Homo sapiens: one gene and its partners. The protein of the gene in region 1 interacts with the protein of each later gene in a biochemical or structural test. Each region holds a gene or a part of one and is shown on either strand. Other genes may lie near its edges. The genes, in order: CDC42, EIF2AK2, CNBP, PICALM, TRIP10, OLA1 and CDC42EP5.

What was found.
Region 2: the proteins of CDC42 (region 1) and EIF2AK2 form a complex in vitro, tested with the Homo sapiens proteins (2 studies listed by BioGRID and IntAct).
Region 3: the proteins of CDC42 (region 1) and CNBP form a complex in vitro, tested with the Homo sapiens proteins (one large-scale study listed by BioGRID).
Region 4: the proteins of CDC42 (region 1) and PICALM form a complex in vitro, tested with the Homo sapiens proteins (one large-scale study listed by BioGRID).
Region 5: the proteins of CDC42 (region 1) and TRIP10 form a complex in vitro, tested with the Homo sapiens proteins (3 studies listed by BioGRID and IntAct).
Region 6: the proteins of CDC42 (region 1) and OLA1 form a complex in vitro, tested with the Homo sapiens proteins (one large-scale study listed by BioGRID).
Region 7: the proteins of CDC42 (region 1) and CDC42EP5 form a complex in vitro, tested with the Homo sapiens proteins (2 studies listed by BioGRID).

The regions. Positions count from the first base shown.
Region 1 is NC_000001.11:22,055,709-22,059,208, reverse strand, and holds part of CDC42 (cell division control protein 42 homolog isoform 1 precursor), read right to left. Parts: intron 1-3,500. UniProt on the Homo sapiens protein: Plasma membrane-associated small GTPase which cycles between an active GTP-bound and an inactive GDP-bound state. In active state binds to a variety of effector proteins to regulate cellular responses. Involved in epithelial cell polarization processes.
Region 2 is NC_000002.12:37,122,481-37,125,980, reverse strand, and holds part of EIF2AK2 (interferon-induced, double-stranded RNA-activated protein kinase), read left to right. Parts: intron 1-3,316; coding exon 3,317-3,475; intron 3,476-3,500.
Region 3 is NC_000003.12:129,181,097-129,185,049, reverse strand, and holds the start of CNBP (CCHC-type zinc finger nucleic acid binding protein), read left to right. Parts: upstream 1-1,153; 5' UTR 1,154-1,274; intron 1,275-3,953. UniProt on the Homo sapiens protein: Single-stranded DNA-binding protein that preferentially binds to the sterol regulatory element (SRE) sequence 5'-GTGCGGTG-3', and thereby mediates transcriptional repression. Has a role as transactivator of the Myc promoter.
Region 4 is NC_000011.10:85,999,585-86,003,084, forward strand, and holds part of PICALM (phosphatidylinositol-binding clathrin assembly protein), read right to left. Parts: intron 1,575-3,500; coding exon 1,451-1,574; intron 1,196-1,450; coding exon 1,059-1,195; intron 1-1,058. UniProt on the Homo sapiens protein: Cytoplasmic adapter protein that plays a critical role in clathrin-mediated endocytosis which is important in processes such as internalization of cell receptors, synaptic transmission or removal of apoptotic cells.
Region 5 is NC_000019.10:6,742,680-6,746,179, forward strand, and holds part of TRIP10 (cdc42-interacting protein 4), read left to right. Parts: intron 1-287; coding exon 288-435; intron 436-514; coding exon 515-577; intron 578-814; coding exon 815-919; intron 920-1,028; coding exon 1,029-1,157; intron 1,158-1,874; coding exon 1,875-2,021; intron 2,022-2,120; coding exon 2,121-2,315; intron 2,316-2,955; coding exon of another isoform or gene 2,956-2,976; exon of another isoform or gene 2,977-3,055; intron 3,056-3,349; coding exon 3,350-3,500. UniProt on the Homo sapiens protein: Required for translocation of GLUT4 to the plasma membrane in response to insulin signaling. Required to coordinate membrane tubulation with reorganization of the actin cytoskeleton during endocytosis.
Region 6 is NC_000002.12:174,123,033-174,126,532, reverse strand, and holds part of OLA1 (obg-like ATPase 1), read left to right. Parts: intron 1-2,857; coding exon 2,858-2,938; intron 2,939-3,255; coding exon 3,256-3,353; intron 3,354-3,500. UniProt on the Homo sapiens protein: Hydrolyzes ATP, and can also hydrolyze GTP with lower efficiency. Has lower affinity for GTP.
Region 7 is NC_000019.10:54,464,526-54,467,411, reverse strand, and holds the end of CDC42EP5 (cdc42 effector protein 5), read left to right. Parts: intron 1-1,864; coding exon 1,865-2,311; 3' UTR 2,312-2,386; downstream 2,387-2,886. UniProt on the Homo sapiens protein: Probably involved in the organization of the actin cytoskeleton. May act downstream of CDC42 to induce actin filament assembly leading to cell shape changes. Induces pseudopodia formation in fibroblasts. Inhibits MAPK8 independently of CDC42 binding.

The DNA of each region.
Region 1 (3,500 bases):
GGTTGCGGTGAGCCGAGATTGCGCCATTGCACTCCAGCCTGGGCAACAAGAGCAAAACTCCGTCTCAAAAAAAAAAAAAATTAAGGCCCGGTGCAGAGGCTCACAACTGTAATCCCACAGCTCTGGGAGGCCAAGGTGGGAGGTCACTTGAGGCCAGGAGTTCAAGAACAACCTGGGCAACATAAAAAGGCCCCATTCTCTACAAAAATATATATATATATTTACAATTAGCCAAGTGTGGTGGTGCGTGCCTGCAATCCCAGCTACTTGGGAGGCTGAGGTTGGAGGATCCTTTAAGCCCAGGAGTTCAAGGTTACAGTGAGCTATAATCACACCACGCACTGCAGCCTGGTGACATAGCAAGACTCTATCTCTAAAAAATAAAAATAAAATTAAAAAATACGTAATTCGGCTGGGTGCGGTGGTTCACGCCTGTAATCCCAGCACTATGGGAGGCCAAGGTGGGTGGATCACCTGAGGTCGGGAGTTTGAGACCAGCCTGACCAGCATGGAGAAACTCCCAACATGGAGAAACCCCATCTCTACTAAAAATACAAGATCAGCCAGGCATGCTGGCACATGCCTGTAATCCCAGCTACTCGGGAGGTTGAGGCAGGAGAATCACTTGAACCCGGGAGGTGGAGGTTGCAGTGAGTGGAGATCATGCCATTGCACTCCAGCCTGGGCAACAAGGGCAAAACTCCATCTCAAAAAAAAAAAAAACTTTAAATAACACATTAGTTCCTGATAATGGGCAGACATGAGGCAATTCTACGTAATAGGCAGGAAGCAACAATTCCTTTAAAAACTAAATATGCTTCAGATTCATTTTCAGATTATGATCCTTGCAATAAATTGTGGTACACTGCCTAAAATAAACCAGGTTATGCTTCCATAGGAAAATAAAATGAAATAAAGCATTCACATTGTTTCCGAAATTTGAGACATCACTCTAGCAGTCCTGAAGAGGGTGCTTCAAGCCTTAATACACATAAAAATCATGTGGGGATCTTATTAAAATAAGATTCTGGGTCAGTAAGACTGGGATGAATCCTGATAGTTCTAATGAGCTCCCAGGTGACACTTATGCTGATGGGTCCACAGACTATACTGCATACCTGAGGCCTGACACCCTTGCTTCTATGACAACGGTAAAGGTAACGGATAAAAATGTAAAGGAGGCCGGAATGCAGCGGCTCACGCCTGTTAATTCCAGCACTTTGGGAGGCCGAGGCAGGCAGATCACGTGAGGTCAGGAGTTACAGACCAGCCTGACCAACATGGTGAAACCCCCCCACCTCTACTAAAAATACGAAAATTACCCGGGTGTGGTGGCGGACACCTGTAATCCCAGCTACTCAGGAGGCCGAAGCAGGAGAATCACTTGAACCCGGGAGGCAGAGGTTGCAGTGAGCCAAGATCATGCCACTGCACTCCAGCCTGGGTGACAGAGCGAGACTCTGTCTCAAAAAAAAAAGAAAAAAAAAAGGTAAAGCAATCTCCACTTCATTTAGAAATGTTTTTGGGCTAGACATAGTGGCTTATGCCTGTAATCCCAGTACTTTGAGAGGCCGAGACGGGCGGATCACCTGAGGTCAGGAGTTGGAGACCAGCCTGACCAACATAGAGAAACCCCATCTCTACGAAAAATACAAAATTAGCCAGGGGCGCTGACGCATGCCTGCAATCCCAGCTACTCAAGAGGCCGAGGCAGGAAAATTACTTGAATCCAGGAGGCGGAGGTTGCGGTGAGCCGAGATCGCGCCATTGCACTCCAGCCTGGGCAACAAGAGCAAAACTCCATCTCAAAAAAGAAAAAAGAAATGTTTTTGGATTCATCAGATTAGTCCGGGAGAAGGATGGTTATTAAAATGTTTATGTTTGAGAGAAACACAGCTTCTCAAAGATGGCGGGGAAGGGTCCTCACAGTTGTGCCAAGAGCAAAAATCTATACAGCACTCACTATGTGCCAGTGAACAGTCCTAAACACTTCATATATATTAATTCAATCTTCCTAACACTGCAGCCCTGTTAGGTAAGCACTACTGCTACCCCTATTTTAGAGGAAGTAAACCTGAGTCACAAAGACGTTACTTAGACTGCACATACCTAATAAGTGGCAGAACCAGGATCTGAACCCAGGCAGTCTGGTTCCAGAGTCTATGCTTTTAATCATTATAGTAGCAATATACCAATCAAGAACACACAGCAGAATTGAAATGGCAAATGGCAATGGCTTAATTTTACAGAAAAGGATGCAAGGTTAAAGTGTAAAGCATTACAGAACAACAGTAACAGAGCCTAAATCAGACTTTGTCTTAAGGTGATAGAGCACCAGTGCTTAGTGAATACCATGGCTGAACAATATAGTTTTCTGCTCTATTAGAAATTGTTCTGGACTTTAGTATAATGGCTAATGCCAAATCTTTGATTTAAAAAATATTTTTCTAAAATTGCAAAAAGGGACGCCACATTGGTGGCAGAAAGCCTGGTTTCACTTCACGGAATAAGCAGTTTGAGATCAATGTCCCAGAAGAGTTTTGACATTCAGGACTTAAAATAGCAGCAGCAGCAGCAGAGGTAGCTGAAATGGCAAGTAATGAAAATTGCTTTAGTAAAAATATTTTGGACTGAAGGTATGAGAAACTAAAAGTAGAAACTAGTAAGACACAAAGCATAACATGACCAGGAATCTGATACAGTAGTGAACAAGCGGTAAAAGTTATTTGCAAACAAAGAAATAAAGGAAGATAAGGAAACAAACATTAAGTGAATAATTTTTAGGAGAGTAAGAGAACTAGTAGTCATCACAGATTTTCTAAGTGATGGTAAATTGTCCAGACAGTGCAGCTGCAGAAGATACTGACCTAAACAGATGGAAAAAGTCAAGCAAGAGTAGATTAGTAATCACTACTTCAATGAGCCCAAATAAAGATATGGCTGACCAAGCACAAAAGCTGTCTCAGGAAACACAGCAAAAAGGCCCATGGAATATTAGGGAAAACGTTAACCCTCAGACATCATCAAATTCATTCACTTAAAAAATATTTCTTAAAACCTACTGTATGTATGGCAGTATTCTAGGCATTAGCAATGGGGTGACCATGCCAGGCCAAAGCCCTGCCCTCACAGAACTTACAATCTAATGAGGAAATCTATGTGGAAGAGAACACTGAATAAGGCATTACCATAAAATTCCAGAATGAAGCCTTTTAATACAGAGAGATATTTTCATGGAAGATATGTTAACACAATATTTAACCCTCTCTCCCCTTCAAAGGAAGCCCTGTAGCCTAAGGTGCTCATTGTTTCTCATCCTCTCAAAAAAAAAAAAAAAAAAACTCTAAAACAATAGAGAAGTGCATTTAAAATACATCTATAAATAAAAGCACAACTAGTCTTTTACTTCCAAGAAAGCCTGTCAGCGGCACAGCAGCTCATGCCTATATCCCAGCACTTTCAGAGGCCAACAGGAGCAAATAGCTTGAGTTCAGGCATTC
Region 2 (3,500 bases), on another chromosome or scaffold:
ACCAGATAGAACCTATCATTACCCACAAAATAGGTGATCTTTGAGATGTTCTAGTCTTACCTTCTTATTTTATAGATGAGGAAACTAAGATCCAGAGATGTGAAGTGATTTTGTCTAAGATAAAAGCTAGATGGTAATTGTTCTCTGGTTGTCTGTTATTGTATAAGGCACTGCTCCAAAATGCAGTGCTTAAAAACAGCAATTTATTGTTGTCTCTAATGGTTCCATGGGTTGATTGTGCTCATCTGGACAATTCTCACTTGGGGTCTCAGAGGGATTTGCAGTCAGTAGTCATCTGAAACCTTGACTACAGCCTATCTTAGGCTGGATATCCAAGCTGGCTAGCAGTTGACACCGGCTGTGGGCTGGAAGTTCAGCTGGGACTGTCAATCAGAATACCTCCACATGGCCTCCCTATGGGGATTGGGCTTCTTACAACTTGGTGGCTGGGTTTCAAGAAGGATTGTCCCCAGAACAAGTCATCCAAAAGATCAGGAGTGAGTGGCAAGGCTTCTTTTGACCTAATCTGAGGAGTTCCAGAACGTCACTACCATCAAGTTATATTGGTTAAACAAGTCACTGAAGCCAGCTTAGATTCAAGGGGAGGCCAAATAGGCCCTACCCCGTAATTTGTCATTCTAGGGGATGAGTTCTAAGAATATTATTTAGGGACTGGGTGTGGTGGCTCACGCCTGTAATCCCAGCACTTTGGGAGGCCGTGGCAGGCGGATCACCTGAGGTCAGGAGTTCGAGACCAGCCTCACCAACATGGAGAAACCCCTCTCTACTGAAAATACAAAATTAGCTGGGTGTGATGGCGCATGCCTGTAATCTCAGCTTCTCGAGAGGCTGAGTCAGAAGAATTGCTTGAACCCGGGAGGCGGAGCTTGTGGTGAGCCCAGATCATGCCATTGCACTCCAGCCTGGGCAACAAAAGCGAAACTCCCTCTCAAAAAAAAATAAAAATAAAAATAATAAAAAGAATACTATTTAGGGAGGCTGAGGTGAGTGGATCACTTGAGCCCAGGAGTTTGAGACTAGCCTGGGGCAACATGGCAAAACTCCACCTCTACAAAAAATACAGTAATTAGGCCGGTGTGGTAGCCACGCCTGTAGTCTCAGCTACTTCAGAAGCTGAGGTGGGAGGACCATTTGAGCCCAGTAGGTGGAGGCTGCAGTGAGCCATGGTCACACCACTGCACTACAGCCTGGGTGACAGAGTGAGACCCTATCTCCAAAAAAAAAAAAAGAATGTTATTCAAATTATGGATTTATATCCAAGAAGATATAAATCACAGTGTCATTCATTAACAGTAAAAAGTTAGAACAAACAAAATATCCAGCAGTAAAGAAATGAGTATATATATTTTGTTCTGTCCCCTGATCGATGGCTGTTTTGCAGCCATTAAAAATGACTGGCTGGGCCAGGCATGGTGGCTCACGCCTGTAATCCCAGCACTTTGGGAGGCCAAGACAGGCAGATCACGAGGTCAAGAGACTGAGGCCATCTGGCCAACATGGTGAAACTCTGTCTCTACTAAAAATACAAAAATTAGCTGGGCATGGCAGCGTACGCCTGTAGTCCCAGCTACTTGGGAGGCTGAGGCAGGAGAATCGCTTGAACCCAGGAGGCGGAGGTTGCAGTGAGCCAAGATCGCGCCATTGCACTCCAGCCTGGGCGACAAAGCAAGACTCTTCTCAAAAAAAATGACTGGCTGGGTGCAGTGGCTCAGGCCTGTAATCCTACCACTTTGAGAGGCCAAGGCTGGTGGATCACTTGAGGTCAGGAGTGCGAGACCAACCTGGGCAACATGGAGAAACCCTGTCTCTACAAAAAATATAAAAACTAGCCAAGTGTGGTGGTGTGTGCCTGTGGTCCTAGCTACTAGGGAGGCTGAGGTAGGAGGATCGCTTGAGCCCTAGGGGTGGAGGTTGCAGTGAGCCAACATTGCCACTGCACTCCAGCCTGGGTGACAGAGTGAGACCCTGTCTCAAAAAAAAAAGGAAGAATCTAAAATAACATTATTTTAGGATTGTCAAAGTATCAGTAATTTTTTTTATTTTTGCAAATTTGTGTCATATACTTTAAAACTTCTTGCATTAAAAAATAAAATTGTAAAATGATTATTCTTCCTCATCTTTGAAATCTCCAATTTATTTACTGCACTTAGCATGGAATTTTCTTAGGTCTTGGCAACACATCCCTGTAAAGCCTTCCACCATTTCACCTTCTCTGCATAAGTTATCCTCTTTGTGTATATTTGCCACACATTGAAAATCCTGAATTAGGTACTTCACACTGCCTGGGTTACCTAGCCTTGCTGCCTAAATGTGGTTTGCTTGTGAAATACAAAGATTTTAACACAAATCTAAGCAAAACATAATGTATGATTTAGCTATGAAAAATTGCACTGGCTGGGTCCATTGGCTCATGCTTGCAATCCCAGCACTTTGGGAGGCTGAGGCAGGTGGATTGCTAGATCCCAGGAGTTTGAGACCAGCATGGGCAGCGTGGCAAAACCCCATCTCTACAGAAAATAGAAAAAATTAGATGGGTGTGGTGGTGTGCTCCTGTGGTCCCAGCTACTCAGGAGACTGAGGTGGGAGAATTGTTTGAGGCTAGAAGGTTGAGGCTGCAATGAGCCAAGATTGTGCCACTGCACTCCAACCTGGGTGACAGAGCAAGACTCTGTCTCAATAAAATAAATAAATTAATTAAAATGACATCACTGGCATTTCAAGAGTACTACAGATGATTTTTAAATTGTCTGATGCTTGGCATTAAGTCGCTGCCTTTTATTTATTTATTTTTTGAGACAGAGTCTTGCTCTTTTGCCCAGGCTGGAGTGCAGTGGTGCAATCTTGGCTCACTGCAACCTCCGCCTCCTGGATTCAAGCGATTCTCCTGCCTCAGCCTCCCAAGTAGCTGGGATTACAGACATGCGCCACTGTGCCCAGCTAAATTTTTTGTATTTTTAGTAGAGATGGGGTTTCACCATGTTGGTCAGGCTGGTCTTGAACTCCTGACCTCGTGATCCGCCCACCTTCGCCTCCCAAAGTGCTGGGATTACAGGCCTGAGCCACCGCGCCCGGCCACTGCCTTTTATTTTATCTTGAGAGTGAGAACTGCTATGTTTTTTTTCAGTATGTTCACTTTTTCCTTTTGAATGTCCTGGCTTCCATTCTAAAACTATGTGAGAACCACAGCAATGGTTTAATAAGGGAATGTAGACAGTTGTCTATTACATGAGGTGTTTTGTGGTTGTTATGAGGGATGTACACTGACACTGCCATGTTCCCTGTTCCTTTTAACTAGGAAGGCGGAGCGTGAAGTAAAAGCATTGGCAAAACTTGATCATGTAAATATTGTTCACTACAATGGCTGTTGGGATGGATTTGATTATGATCCTGAGACCAGTGATGATTCTCTTGAGAGCAGTGATTATGATCCTGAGAACAGCAAAAATAGTTCAAGGTAACTAAAAATAAATTCTCATAGC
Region 3 (3,953 bases), on another chromosome or scaffold:
GCTATGTTGAACGCAACCTCCTAACTGCTTTACAATGATTAAGCACTAATGATTTGAACCCAGGTTTAAAGTCTGACTCTCAACACATGTGCTCTGCCTTCTCACGAACATGATTTCAAAAATCATAGCCCCGGGATTTGGGATTGGTGGCTTATGCCTGTAAACCCAGCGACAGAGCAAGACCCTACTCTTAAAAAAAAAAAAAATTAAAGAAAAAAAGAAAAATAAATCATAGTGTTGAACTGGCAGGTTTCACTGAGACGAAACTTGGGACTCTTCCTTTTTTTTTGTTTCGAATAAAGCCATTCTAGAATGAGACAAAATTCTAAAATATTTTATAGTTAACAGTTTAAATTGGGTTTAATCTTGACAAGACTATCTAGGGCTATATACACAAATCTCTTTTGGAGAAAATACCACAACTAAACTGAAGTCTATTCCTGAATATGACAGACCAGGTCAAATGGTTATCCTTGCCCTCCCGGGGGATGTCACTCATAAACGTGCCAAAAGTCACAGTCTAGGCCCCATTACCTTACATGCTCATGACCTTCCCAGGGAGGCCCCTCGCCCTTACCAGGCACTTTCATCTTGGGAAGACACATCAGTCCTGGCGGAGAAAGCAGCAAGGCCTTTCCCCGGCTCACAAAAATTAATACAAATCTCAGAGGCTGCATCCCACAGCCGTGACCACCGTGACTTGGCATCCCCTTTTCTGCAAACTTAAATGTTATCTAGAAATCGGGCCTGGCTCTGAAAGCCAAGGGCCTGGCAGGAGCCCGAGAAAGGGGAGAAACTTTCTGCGGCCCCAAGCTAATGGCAGTCACTGCACCGAGACCCGTCCCCTGGCATCCCTTTGCTCCAGCTGGCCAAGACAGACCACCAAGGTCAGCCAGATTTCCACCCAGTCTGGCCGGGCCCGGACCCAGCTGGGAATGAACCGAGAAGCACCGGGACCCGGATCCCGGCGTGAAAGGCCGCGCGCGGGGCACGGCGGGAAAAGACGCTGCGCGCAGAAACACCCGCCCCGCGCCGCGCTCTAGTGGGCGGCCCTGCCGCGGGCGGCTCTGATTGGACTGCCGAACCCCGCGCGCTGATTGGCCGCGTGGGCGAGGCGGAGGAGAGCCGTGCGCAGCGGCGTATGTGGGGCCGTGTGCAGACCCGCGTGTGGCGCAGGCAAGGACCCTCAAAATAAACAGCCTCTACCTTGCGAGCCGTCTTCCCCAGGCCTGCGTCCGAGTCTCCGCCGCTGCGGGCCCGCTCCGACGCGGAAGGTGAGGGCTGGGGGAGGGGCCCGGCGCTGACGGAGCCGCAGTGCGGGTCGGGTCTGTGGCGGACAGAGAGGGTAGGGAGCGGCGAGGTGGCGATGGCGGCCGCACTTTGGCCTGCGCCTCTGCTGCGTCAGGCGGGAAGCTCGGCTGCTGCCGCCGCCTCGGACCCGGGTTTCTGGCGCACCGCTGTCGGACGACACTTCTGTCCTTTCTTCGTCCTGGAAAGCTGGGTCGCCGAGCATGCGGGTCTTTCGGCGCCACGGCCGCACCCCAGGCCGCAGGCTTAGGGCAGAGGAGGCCCGCCCGTGCGCCCTTGGGGCCGAGGCCCTGACGCTTCGAGGGTCGCGGAATGAGGGACCGAGGGTGGATTTGGCGGGAACTCACTGGAAGGAGTCCGTGTGGTGGGGAAAGGCTCCCGGCTGCGGATGAAGGGGGGATGGGGTGGGTATAGTCGTGCAGGCCATGTGCTGGGGTCGTGCGCCTGGCGGGCCATGTGCCAAGGGTTTTGGGGGCCTTAGAAAAGGGTTCTTAGGCCGGGCGCGGTGGCTCACGCCTGTAATCCCAGCACTTTGAGAGTCCCAGGCGGGCGGATCACGAGGTCAGGAGTTCGAGACCAGCCTGACCAATATGGTGAAAGTTGGTCTGTACTAAAAATAAAAAATTAGCCGGGCATGGTGGCGGGCGCATGTAGTCCCAGCAGCTCGGGAGGCTGGACAGGAGAATCGCGTGAACCCCGGAGGCCGAGGTTGTGGTGAGCCGAGATCGCGCCACTACACTCCAGCATGGGCAACAGAGAGAGACTCCGTCTTAAAAAAACAAACAAACAAACAAACAAACAACAACAAAGGGTTCCTGAAGAAGCCTTTGTGTTTGGAGTGGCGAGACTGCTGGAAGACTTGGGAGCTTTTAGAGTTTATACTCCCTATCCTTGATAGTTTTCCGATTCTTGAATTTTTATCGTCATTTAAATACTAAGTTGCTTGTGTTACATTACCATTCCAAAAGGGGCTGATGGGGCTCACATTCCAAGAGTTAACACTATTTAAGTTGCTGGGATCCTTTAAAAGCGCCATTACCAGAAAAAACACGAATTTGTCAAACCTCCAAAACCACAGCAGCGGGCGGTAGTCTGCATCATTTCTTGGATTAATGAAACAGATGTAATTACAAACGAGACACGAAATTCAACTAGCTCCCCTCCATCTAGATTTTTCCATATCGTGAGAACCTGTTTTAGAATGGCATAATGGTCCACATTTGGGTTTAGGTGTTGATTTTATTATGGGTAAGGCTTGTGCTTGTTCCCACATGTTAACCATATGGCCTCAGCCACAGGGCACTTCCAAAGGAAGTGACTGTTTCTGGTCTTGGGGGTCTTGTAAAAAGAGAACATTGCTCAGTAATCGTCTGTGATTTTAGCTAGTGTGTTTCAGGCATTATTCAGAAGGACTCAGGTGAGATAAGCCAAAACTGAATTTGTTTTTTGTCTTTCTCAAAGTGAAGGAGGTCTAATGAATATCCCCATCTTGCTTTTAAATTACATTTTTAAAAGTAGATTTTTCCCCCTTTCCTATTGTTTGACCCAATTTTGGAGTGAAACGTAACCAGTTACTATTTCCATTCGAATTTAAATTAGCAATTTTATGTTATTTGTTTGTTCAAGCAGTATAACTGGAGTGTAGAGCTTTGAGGGTTTCAAAAAGATAAGAGATATAGTACTTATCTCCTGGGCTTCCCCCTCCCCCCTCCTAAATAGTTTTAAATGCTTCTAATGAGTTACTCTGGTTAAGGATAATCAAACACCTGTAAACTGCCAGGATCCTAGGTACATGCTGTTTTTAGTTTGTTGAGCCTGATTCTTGTCTACAAGAGTTCTTTGTGTATTGGAATATAAAAGGAATAATTTATTACATTCCCAAGGGCAGAATTAAAGACTTAAGTTTTTCCGATTTCATCTCTTGATAAGTTTTTCTTTAAAAAAATAACAGTTTGTGTTTTTCTGAGGAACCAAAGGTCCTCTTTTTTTTCATATTGGTAACAGGAGAGGTAATGTATTTCAGATGGTGCAGTCTGTAAAATATTTTGAACCAAATCAGTGGAAGACCAGGGGTTTTTCTTTTTTTTTTTCTGAGACGGAGTCTCACTCTGTCGCCCAAGCTGGAGTGCAGTGGCGCGATCTCGGCTCACTGCGACCTCCGCCTCCCGGATTAAGCGATTCTCCTGCCTCAGCCTCCGAAGTAGCTGGGATTACAGGCGCCCGCCGCCACACCCAGCTAGTTTTTGTATTTTAGTACAGACGGGGTTTCACCATGTTGGCCAGGCTGGTCTCGAACTCCTGACCTTGTGATCCGACTCCCTCGGCCTCTCAAAGTGCTAGGATTACAGGCAGGAGCCACCGCGCCTGGCCAGGTTTTTCTTAAACTGGCATTTGAACATCTGGAACAGGCAGGGAGATGTCTTTTTTAAAGTATAAATGTGTTTTGTTACATGATTTATGACAATTCTACTTGTCTTTTTTTTTTTTTTTTTTTTTTTTTTTGAGACAGAGTCTTTCTCTGTCGGCCAGGCTGGAATGCAGTGGCACAGTCTCGGCTCACAGCAGCCTCCATCTCCCGGGCTCAAGCAATTCTCCTGCCTCAGCCTCCCAAGTAGCTGGGATTACAGGCGTGTGCCACCACGCCC
Region 4 (3,500 bases), on another chromosome or scaffold:
AGAACTAAATTCAACAAACACCTACTAAGATTTCAGGGAGCAGGTAGCAACTGAGCATGCATACAGCAAGCAGTTCACGTAGTAAAACTTACACTGAGCTATTAGGCTCAGCTATTAGGAGTCAGTAGGCAGGCAGATGAGCTTTTAAGGGTGAGTTAATAAACAGCAACAACAAAGTGAAAGGAAAAAACTCACCACTCTCTATGGAACATTTAACATGTGCTAATAATGCACTGTGCTAAAACCTAGTCACCTGGGAGCATCTTAAAAACAAAAATTCTTGGGCCCCAGGCCCCACCTACTGAATCAAAACTCTAGGATTGGGACTCAGATATCTGTAGTTTAATAAACTCTCCAAATGCTTCTGATGTTAAAGTTGAGAACCACAGTCTCATCTGAAAACAAGGTTTCTCAAAAAAAGTTAAGAACTAACAGAGCCAGGATTCAAACCAGAATCTGACTTTTAAAACTACTTTAAGCCACTCTGAGGTTCAGAAAATGCCAATTGTTTTACTTTACCTGGCAATATTATATTTCCATGTTAAGTAGCTTAAATTAGACAACAAGATTATTAAAGTTAGTCTGGTAGGCTTCAATACCAAGAAACCTGGCAACTAAACTCTGTCACTGTGTTCCAGATTACAGAGTTTAAAACCAGGAAACAGATATGACAGACGTTTAATATCTAATGAAATGGTATTTTGAAATATATATCATATCCATATGTCAAAGAGCTATAAAGGGTCTTGAACCATTAGATGCCTCATAAATGTGTTTAATCATAATTTTTACACAATGAAAAGTTGGCCCAGAGATAACAGCTATATTCCTATTAGTATAAATCAGTGATTTAACTATCTTCCATTTCGTAAATACGTAAAATATAAACTCATCACTTTATCTTTAGGTATTATACCAATATCACCATTTATCGCCACCTCTTTGTGTGAATAGATTATAAAAGCATAAATAAAAGTAAACCTGAAAAGTTCTGCAAAATTTCTATTAGAAGTCTTTGAACCTACATATTCAAAGGTAACCTTAACTTCTACTCCTACCTGTTAGAAGAACTAGGGGTAGAAAATATGTCAATGGCTGGTGCAGTCATTATCCCTCCTGCTGAGGTGGATACAGGAGAGGCTGCAGTTGTTAAAGAGGTATGAGGTTTCTTTGCAAGTTCTTTTAGGCGCTGTTCCTGTTAAGAAAGGGAACTACCATAAGGATTCCAGAAACCAGATTTCTTTGTACAGCCTCTGAAAAAAGCATTTTCTAATTTGTTCTGATAGCAGATATTCTGTTTTACCTAATTCTATGTCAGGACGAAAAGTTAGACTGAGTTTCAGCCCATTAGGTAGCTATACATTTAAGACTCTAAGTCTGTGCAGAGGCCCCATTTACCTAATGAACACCTGTACTCATTTTTCGAAATAAGGAGAATGCACAAACTTACCTTTAAAGCTTTCAAACGTGCCTGTTCTTCCTCTAATGCTGCCTGCTTTTCCCTTTCATCCACTTTGGTCAGAGATAGACCAGTGCTTGCCAGGGAAGACACTGCATTGGAAAGTGTAGTTGCCCTAGGATAATTGAACAGAGATAATTTGGCTTTTTGCTAAACACTTCACATTACACCCAGGTCATGAAATGGTCTGGCAACCTTGCCATGGATAGGCACTATAATTATAAACTTAACTTCTGGATTCAAATCCAGTACTTCAGATGAAATATTCTACCTAGTGATCTACAGGATTAAAGCAATTAGAAAAATCTTGACTTAATATACACTCACTGCTTTCAGAGTAAGTGTTTGACTTTGGAAAGGGTTCACAACAGAGTGGGGCACATTGCCTCTTCCAAGCCCCAAGAGAGGAAACCAGTGCAATTGGGAAAGAGCCCACATAATCCCACAAAATCCCTGATGGGAAAAAGTGTTGAGTTTATCACAGGGAAAACCCTCTGCTAATTTACAGCCTACGTTTCGGCAGTGCCACAGGAACACCAAAACATGCATACCAGTAACACGTAACGTAAGTCTAGGTATGTTTCACCTATAACAACATCCCCAGAGGACTTCAGGTTCCTTCAAAAGAAGACTGGTTTCAATCTAGTCATCAGGCCATTTGGCATCTTTCTATGTGCTGCCCTTTTGCCAAACCAGAATTTCCTTTTTAATATACATGTACAATGTATCATTTTTCACTGGCAAGGCACCTCCTTTCCCTTTTATCAAAAACGTATCCACACTATAAACCTCAACATTAACTTTCCAAATGTTAACTCTAGGCTAAGTAAAACAAGTGGTAAAGAATTCTAACCTGAAGAACTACCTTGAGCTTTATTAATTTTCCTTTTACCACACACCAAACATCATTAGTTTCTACTCTTAAGCACGTAAAGTGGTAAAAACTACCTTTTAAATTTTATGTAATATTAGTATTATAAATAAGCCAATAAAAAGGTACAATTCAGAAGACAAAGGAAGAATAACATAGTTGTGACAGAAATGCAAGAAAACCAATAAATTTTATGATAAACATTTCAGGTAAATTGGTGCACCTGAACTACGTGGCTCTTTTTTTCGTTATTCTCTCAAATAAATGAGACTTATTGTTTTGACTGCTACTTCGAAAATCTTACTAGAAAATTCAAAGTACAAATCTAGGATTAAAAATGAGTACTAAAATCCAATAACGGCATTTCCCTTTGGAAATTATTTAAATTTTATTACTAAAAGAAAGATCAAAAGTTCTGAAACAACCAGAAAGTCTAAAAAGAACCAAAGGAAGGTTCTCACTATACAAATTCTTTCTTCATGCTGTTTTAAAAAAAGGTTCATAAGAAAACATGAGAATAACTCAAGTAATTTCTTAACCCAATACAAAAATCATGTTACCAGACTGATATGAAATGATTTCTGTTACTTTCAATTTGCTAGGTTAAATGGTCTTAGTCTGAGGAATTAGCTTAAAACATAATAAAGTGATTAAAATATAAAATATCAATAATCAACCCCATGAACTGGCATTAGGCAGAGATGATGCAATTTGATGTCAGATATTCTAGGTTTGAGTCCCAGCATTGCTACTACATACTTCACAGGGCTATTGTGAGGATTGAGCAAATTAATACGAAAGTATCTTGCAATTATAGGCCTGGCACGGTGGTTCATGCCTGTAATCCCAGCACTTTGGGAGGCTGAGGTGTGCAGATCACTTGAGTTCAGGGGTTCGAGACCAGCCTGCTCAACATGGTGAAACCCTGTCTCTACTAAAAATACAAAAATTAGCCGGCCGTGGTGGCATGCATCTGTAGTCCCACCCTTGGGAGGCTGAGGTGGGAGAATCGCTTGAACCCAGGAGGTGGAAGTTGCAAGTGAGTTGAGATTGTGCCACTGCACTCCAGCCTGGGCAATAGAGTGAGACTCTGCCTCGGGGGAAGAAAAAAAAAATGTATCTTATAACTACAAAGCACCACATAAAACAATGCATTAGCATCTTTAGGAG
Region 5 (3,500 bases), on another chromosome or scaffold:
CCTGAGGTGGGAGGATCACTTGAGCCCAGGAGTTTGAGGCTGCAGTGAGACGCAATCATGCCGCTGCACTGCAGCCTGGGTGACAGCAAGACCCTGTCTCAAAAAAAAAAAAAAAAAAAATCTACTCAAGGGTTGGGGTTAAGGAATATGGACCAGAATTTGTCATCGCTTCAGGGATTACATTCTTGGGGCTTAACCCTTTTCCACCTGGAGGTGCGTCCTGGGGCATCAGCCTGCTCGGGAGGAGGGGCCTGACTCCCTGTTCCCCGATTCTCATCCAACCCCAGATTCAGCCAGCAACAGTCCTTCGTACAGATTCTCCAGGAGGTGAATGACTTTGCAGGCCAGCGGGAGCTGGTGGCTGAGAACCTCAGTGTCCGTGTATGTCTTGAGCTGACCAAGTACTCACAAGAGATGAAACAGGAGAGGAAGATGGTGAGGAGCCCCCCGATTCAGGTTTTACAAAGGGCTTCTGCTGGAACCCTGGCGAGCCTTATCACTCTTCTTTCTGTAGCACTTCCAAGAAGGGCGGCGGGCCCAGCAGCAGCTGGAAAATGGCTTTAAACAGCTGGAGAATGTGAGTTTGCAGAGGTAGCAGTGACTGTGGCCCGGAGGCATGGGGGCAGGGTTGCGGATCCGGAGTCAGGGAGCTGCCCTCTTTGTCAGACCTGGACCTTCCCTCCCCCATAGGCTTCCAGTACTCCCTTGACCCCTACTTACTGGATGACATCCCAATAATCCCTGAAACCTTGGTTTCCCACCCTGCTGTCTTTGGGATGGTGGCTCCCTCACTCCGGTTCTGTCCCCTACACAGAGTAAGCGTAAATTTGAGCGGGACTGCCGGGAGGCAGAGAAGGCAGCCCAGACTGCTGAACGGCTAGACCAGGATATCAACGCCACCAAGGCTGATGTGGAGAAGGTGTGTGTGGCGGGGGCGGGGGGGGGGTGCGGGGTCTGGGACAAGCTTGGGGAGTCCGAGTGGGACGTGATCGGAACCTGGCAGTACCTTCCACCTCTGCATTCTTCAGGCCAAGCAGCAAGCCCACCTTCGGAGTCACATGGCCGAAGAAAGCAAAAACGAATATGCGGCTCAACTGCAGCGCTTCAACCGAGACCAAGCCCACTTCTATTTTTCACAGATGCCCCAGATATTCGATGTGAGTGCTCCCAGTTCTCAGACCTACCTTCCCGAAAGCCTCCAAATGTTAGCCAACTCCTACGCATTCATCAAAACCCCAGCTGCAATGTCCCAGTCCCTAGATTGAAAGGGAATCAGAAACCTATAGTAACAGTGAGCTGTGCTTTTAGTCAGCTGTTCTTCCTGCTGGGCATGCCTTTTACTTGTTTGTTTATTTACTTCTATAGAGAGATGGGGCCTGGCTCTGTCACCCGGGCAGGAGTGCAGTGGCATAATCACAGCTCACTGCAGCCTGGAACCCCTGTGCTCAAGTGACCTTTCTTTCTTTTTGAAATTCCTACTTATTCTTCTAAGCTCCACCTCTAACAACCCCTCTGAAAGGTCTCGAATTTCCCCTCTCCTGTTTCAATCTAGCGCTCCACTCTCTGTCCCATCCGTGGCCCTGGGAGTATCAGGGCTGGTTCTGCTTTTTCTTCAAATCCCTGTTCCCTTGTCTCCTCCTTTGAGAAGCCTTTGCTGACCCCCTAGGCACGCGTCCCCCTCTGAGATCCCCCTGGCCCTGTGTCTCTTCCCCAACCACAGTGGGCTGGAGTCTCTCTTCCCGACTCTGTCTTCCCCTCCAGACTGGCTTGGGGCTGGGGCCAGCGTGGAGCGCGATCATATTTGCAGAGTGAATCACTGTGCTTCTAGTCCCTCTGTTAGCACCCCTGAGCCACCCTTGTCCCTGTCCTTACAGAAGCTCCAAGACATGGATGAACGCAGGGCCACCCGCCTGGGTGCCGGGTATGGGCTCCTGTCGGAGGCCGAGCTGGAGGTGGTGCCCATAATAGCCAAGTGCTTGGAGGGCATGAAGGTGGCTGCAAATGCTGTGGATCCCAAGAACGTGGGTGCCTGGTCTGGGTCCACTGGGCTACGGGAAGGGCAGAGGGAGGTACCCATAGGCTAGGCACTCGACTGCTCATCCACTGTCCCCCTCCCCCAGGACTCCCACGTCCTTATAGAGCTGCACAAGTCAGGTTTTGCCCGCCCGGGCGACGTGGAATTCGAGGACTTCAGCCAGCCCATGAACCGTGCACCCTCCGACAGCAGTCTGGGCACCCCCTCGGATGGACGGCCTGAACTCCGAGGCCCGGGTCGCAGCCGCACCAAGCGCTGGCCTTTTGGCAAGAAGAACAAGGTGGGGGCCGGGACCCTTGGGATGGTGGGGGAGAAGGACAGTGAAGTGGGGACAGTGGGGCCCCTATTGAGTCAGCCCCAGCCGCCTGAACGCCGAGTCTCGGGCAGGAATTTTCCTCTTGGCTGCCAGCCCGGACTGGAGGGAAGGAAGGCGGCCGATTGGCCTGGGAGTCCCCCGAGGCGAAGGCGGGGGCAGGGTGGGGAGGTGGGGAGGTCCGTGGCGTTTGTCTGCTGCTTCTCGGGATGCTGGGAGAAAACCTGCTGGTGGAATTCAGGGCTGGCCTGAGGGCTGGTGACACCATCCCTGGGGACTCCCCGAGTTTCTCTCTCCATCCTGCTGATGGGACTCTGGGAGCCGCCCTGCATGTCTTGCTTTCTTGGGTTTTTGGATTTTAATATACCTTAGCACCCTTGGTTTATACCTTTGATTTATACTTTGGGTCCCTCTTCACTTACACTCTCATACCTCTCCTTGACTTAACACCTGTGATCCCCGAGCTTAAACTTCTGATGCCCCTAACCCCTCTCATTTTCCTGCCTTCCACTCCCTCTCGGCTTGTGGTTTTATTTTTGTTTATTTATTTTTGTCCTCTGTGGCCTCTTACCTGTCTGAGACCTTGATTCCTGCATGCGTCTTCTAGACTGTCAGCCCAGAAAGCTAAGTGGACAGAGAGACATGGGCCTCCCTGCCTCCTGGACCCATGCTTGCTCCCGGACATAACATTCCAGAGACCTAGGAGATACCGGGGGAGTGAGAGTTCTGGCTTTCGGGCTTACAGTTCAACATCCTCCCCGCCACCTTCCAGATTTTTTTGTGTCGCTCCTGCATGCGTTTTCTCTGTGTGGTTGTGCATCTTGAGTTGTGGTTTTCTTACCGTTTTTTTTCTTTCTCCATTTTGTTTTTCCTTTTTCCTTTTTTTGCGTCCATCCGTCCATCCGTGCGTCCATCCCTCCGTCCATTCGTCCTCACTCTCTACATCCTCCTATGCCCCCCCACCCCTTCAACCTATCCCCCTCCCCGGCCCCCGCCGGTAGCCTCGCCCCCCACCCCTCTCCCCCCTGGGGGGCCCCGTACCCTCGGCATTGCCTAACGGACCCCCGTCCCCCCGCTCCGGCCGTGACCCCTTGGCCATACTGAGCGAGATCAGTAAGTCGGTCAAACCGAGGCTAGCATCCTTCCGCAGCC
Region 6 (3,500 bases), on another chromosome or scaffold:
AACCGAAAAGTTCAAATGACCAGGAATTTTTATGTATCTCTATAATGTACAGAATTTATTTTGAAAATGAGGGATTTGTTAAAGTTACCAAAACAGCCCAATTTAGTACCCCTACATCTGCATTTCTATATAATGATAGTAAAGAAATATGGAACCTAAGGCAACTTCTGAATGCATTGGGTATTCAATTTTTTTTTCCAGTTAACCAAGCTCAGTTAACTGGAACCTTTTATTGTTCTAATCATCGTTATTTATATATGTATTTATATATATGAACATAAGGAAATAAATTCAATCAACCAATAAGTATTATATCCAAACAAGCCCAAATGTTTTCTTTCATCTGTTTAGAAGTTTTTCCGATAAAGAATATAACATCTTTTAATTTTTTGCTAAAATTAGAATTTTTACTTTATGTAAGAAAAAGAGCACATTGAAACTATACCATATACTGATCATTTATATAAGATAGTCTTATCTGAAAAGCAATCTATTTTTGATTTGTCTTAAATAAAACTGACATCTTTTAGTAAATCTAAGTTGTCTTTTCTTGGCTGTTAAATCTTTTGTGGGAATAATTAAGAGAGCACTGAGTACAAAATGTTTTTATTTCAACTGTCCAAAAACTAGGTTATAATATATAAATTTCTCTAAAAATATTTGAATGTGGCTTTAAGGAATACTGTGCTGTTCAAGAACTTTGATTATAAGTGAATTCTATTTAATTAAAACTTGACTGCAAAAAATTTTTTGAGTGCTTCTAATTTGTAATGTAATTTGTAATGTGAGAAAAAGCAAATGCCAAAATGCTTTTGTGATAAGATTTCTATATCTGAAATAATGGTCCAGTTAATTTAAAATGAAAGAGAAATACTGAAATTCCTTCACTGGTGATCAGCACTTATTGAGGCTCTGAGGTTTTGTAAAAATGTTTGTAGTTACAGAAGTATTTTATACTTTTTATATGATTAAAATTTAATTTCTTCCCCTATTTTTTGTTTGGCTTTCTTTTGTCTGTTTTCTTTCTTTAATTGAAAAAACTAATGGAACCAAATATAAGATGGTACGACTGTTTTTTCTTTCTTTTGTATAATCTTGTTGCGTGTCTCTACATAAGCTGTTCTGGCCACTCATCATAGTAACCAGCTGGGCCATTTCACCTGCTGGAGCCATTAAAGAGGACTCTCTCCCCCTAGATTAATCCCCTCCGACATTAGTTTTTTGCACTGACAACTAGAGCAGGCATTCAGAATTTGCAGGTGGCCAGTGTGACGCACATAATTGCCTACAATTTTAGGCAATGAATAAAAATGGTCTACATTACTTGTCAAAGGTTGTATATGCAGTGCCAAGTGAGATCTATGGGAAGCCTTTTAGGGTTTAAAGAACAGTTAATAGCAAGGCTGCACAGGGCTTTTTTAATCATAATGCATTTGTAATATAGCACTTTGATCTTCTCCTTGTAGGAAATGGTGTTACATTAGCCACTTTTAAACATTTATGAGTGAAATTCAGTTATAGAAGAGTAAAAGTGATTATTCTTAAGCCGAACATGTTAGATTTCATTAAAAGTTTTCAGCTTGCCCCTTCCTTGTTAAAATCTGTGGGAAGTCCTTTGCCTGGAGGGTTTCAAATCAGGATCTAAGGATATAAGGCTTTTTCCTTATTTTTCCTGTTGGTAACAGCAAAATTTGGAAGGAAGGTATACTAAATATTGAGATAATTTATACAAATGGATATTTAAAGAAGAATAACTGATTATGGTAAAGTAAAATACATTGATAAAAATCCAGGAAATTGATTACTAATAATTGTGTTACAATAAATTTTGAGAAATGCATATTTAAAACATATCCATAAATTATCTTTAGTAACAACAACAACAGACACCCAGATGACTCTCAAATGCACTTCTTCTGGAAGAGCTAAATTTGACCTTTCAGACCCCAGAGCCTTTTATTAACACCTGCCTGTAAGGAGAACCTTGCCACACGCAGCTTTTAGATTCAGAACCACAAAACTGATGAGGAAAGGCTTGAAGGGTTCAGTTTGTGTCACTTGCTGTTTGCCGTTTCCATTTCACAGATGATTAATCTTTCTGTGAAGAAAGGCCAGAGAAACAAAGCACATTGGGCTCTTCCTGCAGTTACTCCTTCTGAATGCACACTAGCTTGCTAACTAAAAGGCCTTTAGATTTCCAGCAGAGAGAGATGTTCTGAAAGTGAATGCAGCTGGTTGGAGGTCACCAGTGCAGGGCTCTTGCCATTGTGTAATGGAGGCTTTGGCAGGTTCGGGGGGTGGGGGAGTTGGGGGTATTGGGGGTGCGGCTGCGGGAGAAGTGGGCAGGGAGAAGGTGTTGGCAAAAAATTAATCTAAAATAAAAAGGGATCTGGTCAGTTGATTTAATATTTTGGAGGCTGGATCATCGATAATAGGCTCAATTTTGTCTTGTTTGTTTTTCTTCTTAGGGGAAAAATATAATTTAGTCTTTCTTCAGTATATCCCCTCACTCCATTTTCTAATAGCATGTTTGTCTTCTATATGGCATCACTAGGTAATATTGAAATGGTAGTAACTCTTGTATTAGTCTTTGATGTAATTGAATTGTCTTGACATTTTTCAGGCTGTTACTAATTTTTGCTAATATTGTCCATTTTATACATTAAAAATTTAATGCCACAATGTTTTATTAGTAATTGGTTTTTAAATGAGATATTGAAAATAATTATTTGTGTGACCTAGCCCCCTTTCATTAAAACAATCTATTTTTATTTTGAAAATTTGAAAACTTTTTAATATTTAGTATCTAAATGTTTAGTTATTCATATATATTTACCTTTTTCTCAATCATGTGTAGGATATAATGTGCAAAGTAAAATCCTGGGTTATAGATCAAAAGAAACCTGTTCGCTTCTATCATGATTGGAATGACAAAGAGGTAAGTTGTAAATATCATGCCATCTATTACTGCCTTTGCTTTCATTTGCTAGGGAACAAATTAGAGTTGTTGTTATTTTACACTTACCATTATATCTAAATTTTTATTTCTGTCAGTGATTGCTTATTCCTGGGCTTGTTATTTTTTTCTTTTCCCCCACTCATGATATTTCATAACCACTAATCTTTTGGAAAGAAGAATTATAAAAATGAAAATGCCTACTTGTTTTAAGGAATGTTTACTTTCAAATTCTTCAGTGATTTACTCCATATTTACTAAACTTTTAAAAGGGATTCTTTCTCCATCTCCCACTTTAGATTGAAGTGTTGAATAAACACTTATTTTTGACTTCAAAACCAATGGTCTACTTGGTTAATCTTTCTGAAAAAGACTACATTAGAAAGAAAAACAAATGGTAAGTTTTTCCTCACCAGATATACCCAGATGCATCATCTCTGTACACACACAAACACACACCCACATATATGTACTTAACGGCAATGTTTAATTTTAATATTTTTCTCCTTATTAAAAAGTTTAAAATGGATGAGAAAGCTGTGCT
Region 7 (2,886 bases), on another chromosome or scaffold:
GCGCGATCTCAGCTCACCACAACCTCTGCCTCCCAAGTTCAAGCGATTCTCCTGCCTCAGCCTCTCAAGTAGCTGGGATTACAGGCATGCACCACCACAACCAGCTAATTTTGTATTTTTTTTTTAGTAGAGATGGAGTTTCACCATGTTGGTCAGGCTGGTCTCAAAGTCCTGACCTCAGGTGATCCACCCGCTTCAGCCTCCAAAAGTGCTGGGATTACAGGTGTGAGCCACCATGCCTGGCTAGGGAATTTATATTATTATTTTAGAAAACATAAGACATCATATTGTTAGGTTGTAGTCTCAAGATCAGGTACAGTTGGCCAGGCGTGGTGGCTCATGCCTGTAATCCCAGCACTTCGGGAGGCCGAGGCGGGCAGATCACGAGGTCAGGAGTTCAAGACCAGCCTGACCAACATGGTGAAACCCTGTCTCTACTAAAAATACAAAAATTAGCGTCTCAAAAAAAAAAAAAAAAGATCAGGTACAGTTGCCCCTTGGTAGCAGTGATGGGACTGGTTCTGGGACCCCTATGGATACCCAAATATGCAGATGTTTAAGTCTCTTATATAAATGCCCTAGTATTTGCATATAACCTATGTACATCCTCTCCTACACTTTAAATCATCTCTAGATTACTTATAATGCATAATACAATGTAAATGCTTTGCAAATAATTGTTATATTGTTTGAAACTTGTACTCATTTTTTATTACTGTATTTTTTCCCCAGTATTTTTTATCAGCAGTTGATTGAATCTGCTGATGCGGAACCCACAGATACCAAGGACTGTAATTCAAATCATAAAATGCACCCTAGGCAAAGCCCACCTGGGCCTCTTCCTCGTGTGCGTGGTGGGCTCTAGGCAGGATCTGCTTTGCTTAATGGACAGAGTCAGCCCTGTCTTCAGAACAGGAGCCTGGGAATTTCCATTTTTGACAAGCTGGAGTTTTCTTTTTCTTTTTATTGAGACAGGGTTTCACTCCTGTTGCCCAGGCTGGAGTGCAGTGGCCAATACAGTGACACGATCTCGGCTCCCTGCAACCTCCGCCTCCGGGGTTCAAGCGATTCTCCTACTTTAGCTGGGATTACAGGCATGCGCCACCATGCCCCGCTAATTTTTGCATTTTTTATAGAGATGGGGTTTCACCATGTTGCTCAGGCTGGTCTCGAACTCCTGGCCTCAAGCGATCCGCCCGCCTCGGCCTCCCAAGGTGCTGGGATTACAGGAGTGAGCCACCGCACCCGGGCCAACAAGCTGGAGTTTTCTATCAGTCAAGTCTGGGAAGCACTCTGAAGGGTTTGTGAAATATTTGTTACTTGACCTCTAGGAAGGCTCAAGTATTCGCTCTCAGGAGGATCGGCATAGCATGGTGTTCATAGGCATTCTGGAGTCAGGTTAGATCCAAATGTGAGCTCAGCAGCTGTGCCCATGGGACCTCCTGGAGTCTCATCTTACCCCATCTGTGAAACGGGAGGCCGGGCGCGGTGGCTCACGCCTGTTATCCCAGCATTTTGGGAGACTGAGGCGGGTTGATCACCTGAGGTCAGGAGTTCAAGACCAGCCTGGCCAACATTGTGAAACCCCGTCTCTACAAAAATACAAAAATTGGCTGGGTATGGTGGCGGGTGCCTGTAATCCCAGCTACTCGGGAGACTGAGGAGGAAGAATCGCCTGAACCCGGGAGGCGGAGGTTGCGGTGAGCCGGGATGGCGCCATTGAACTCCAGCATGGGCGAGACTCCGTCTCAAAAACAAAAATCAAAAAACAAAAAACGGGAACCGTCCCCCATCGTCCTTTGAGCAGTCGCGTGGCTGCGAGCCCCGGGCTGGGGCCGCGCTGACCCTCCCGTGCCCCTCGCAGATGCCCGTGCTGAAGCAGCTGGGCCCCGCGCAGCCCAAGAAGCGGCCTGATCGCGGCGCCCTGTCCATCTCCGCGCCGCTCGGCGACTTCCGGCACACGCTGCACGTGGGGCGCGGCGGCGACGCCTTCGGGGACACCTCGTTCCTGAGCCGCCACGGCGGCGGGCCGCCCCCCGAGCCCCGGGCGCCCCCCGCGGGGGCCCCGCGCTCCCCGCCGCCGCCCGCCGTCCCGCAGTCCGCAGCGCCCTCGCCTGCCGACCCGCTGCTGTCCTTCCACCTGGATCTGGGGCCCTCCATGCTGGACGCGGTGCTGGGCGTCATGGACGCGGCGCGCCCGGAGGCGGCTGCCGCCAAGCCCGACGCGGAACCCCGCCCCGGGACGCAGCCCCCCCAGGCCCGCTGCCGCCCCAACGCGGACCTCGAGCTGAACGACGTCATCGGCCTCTAGGTTCCCTCATTCCCCGCGCCCTTCCCGCCCGGCACCCCACTTCTGTATACATAAACGGCCAAGGTGTGTGCCCGGGCTCTGACTTTTCACTTTGCACGTGGAAAGGGATGAATGATAGGGTCCTGGCGCCTCTGAGAGCCGGATGTGTCACCCGGAGGCCTGGTCCGGGTCCGATGATTGCCCTGGGGTGGGGGTGCGGCTCCTTTAAGAGAGCCCGAGGGCGTGGCCAGGCGGTGCCCCTTGCAGAGGCGGCGGCTCCCGCAGTCCCATTCGTCAAATACTGTGCGCCACCGCCGGCCGGACGTGGTCCTGGGGCCGGGCCAGACTCAGCCACCGCGGGGCCAGCCGAGGCGGGGCTGCAGAGTGCTGCAGCCCCAGGAGTCTTTCTGGCCCTGAACGCCTCAGGTGGACTCCGACCCGGCGGAGCCGCCGTTTACTCTGGGAGCGGCTGCAGAGGGAAGTGTCTGAGAACACTTTTAGAGCAGTAGGGGCCTGGTCTCCGTGGGGGAAGGGTCCGCAGGCATCTTGGTTCTTTAAGGCCCCCGAGGGATGGGGCCGAACATGCAAATGATTTG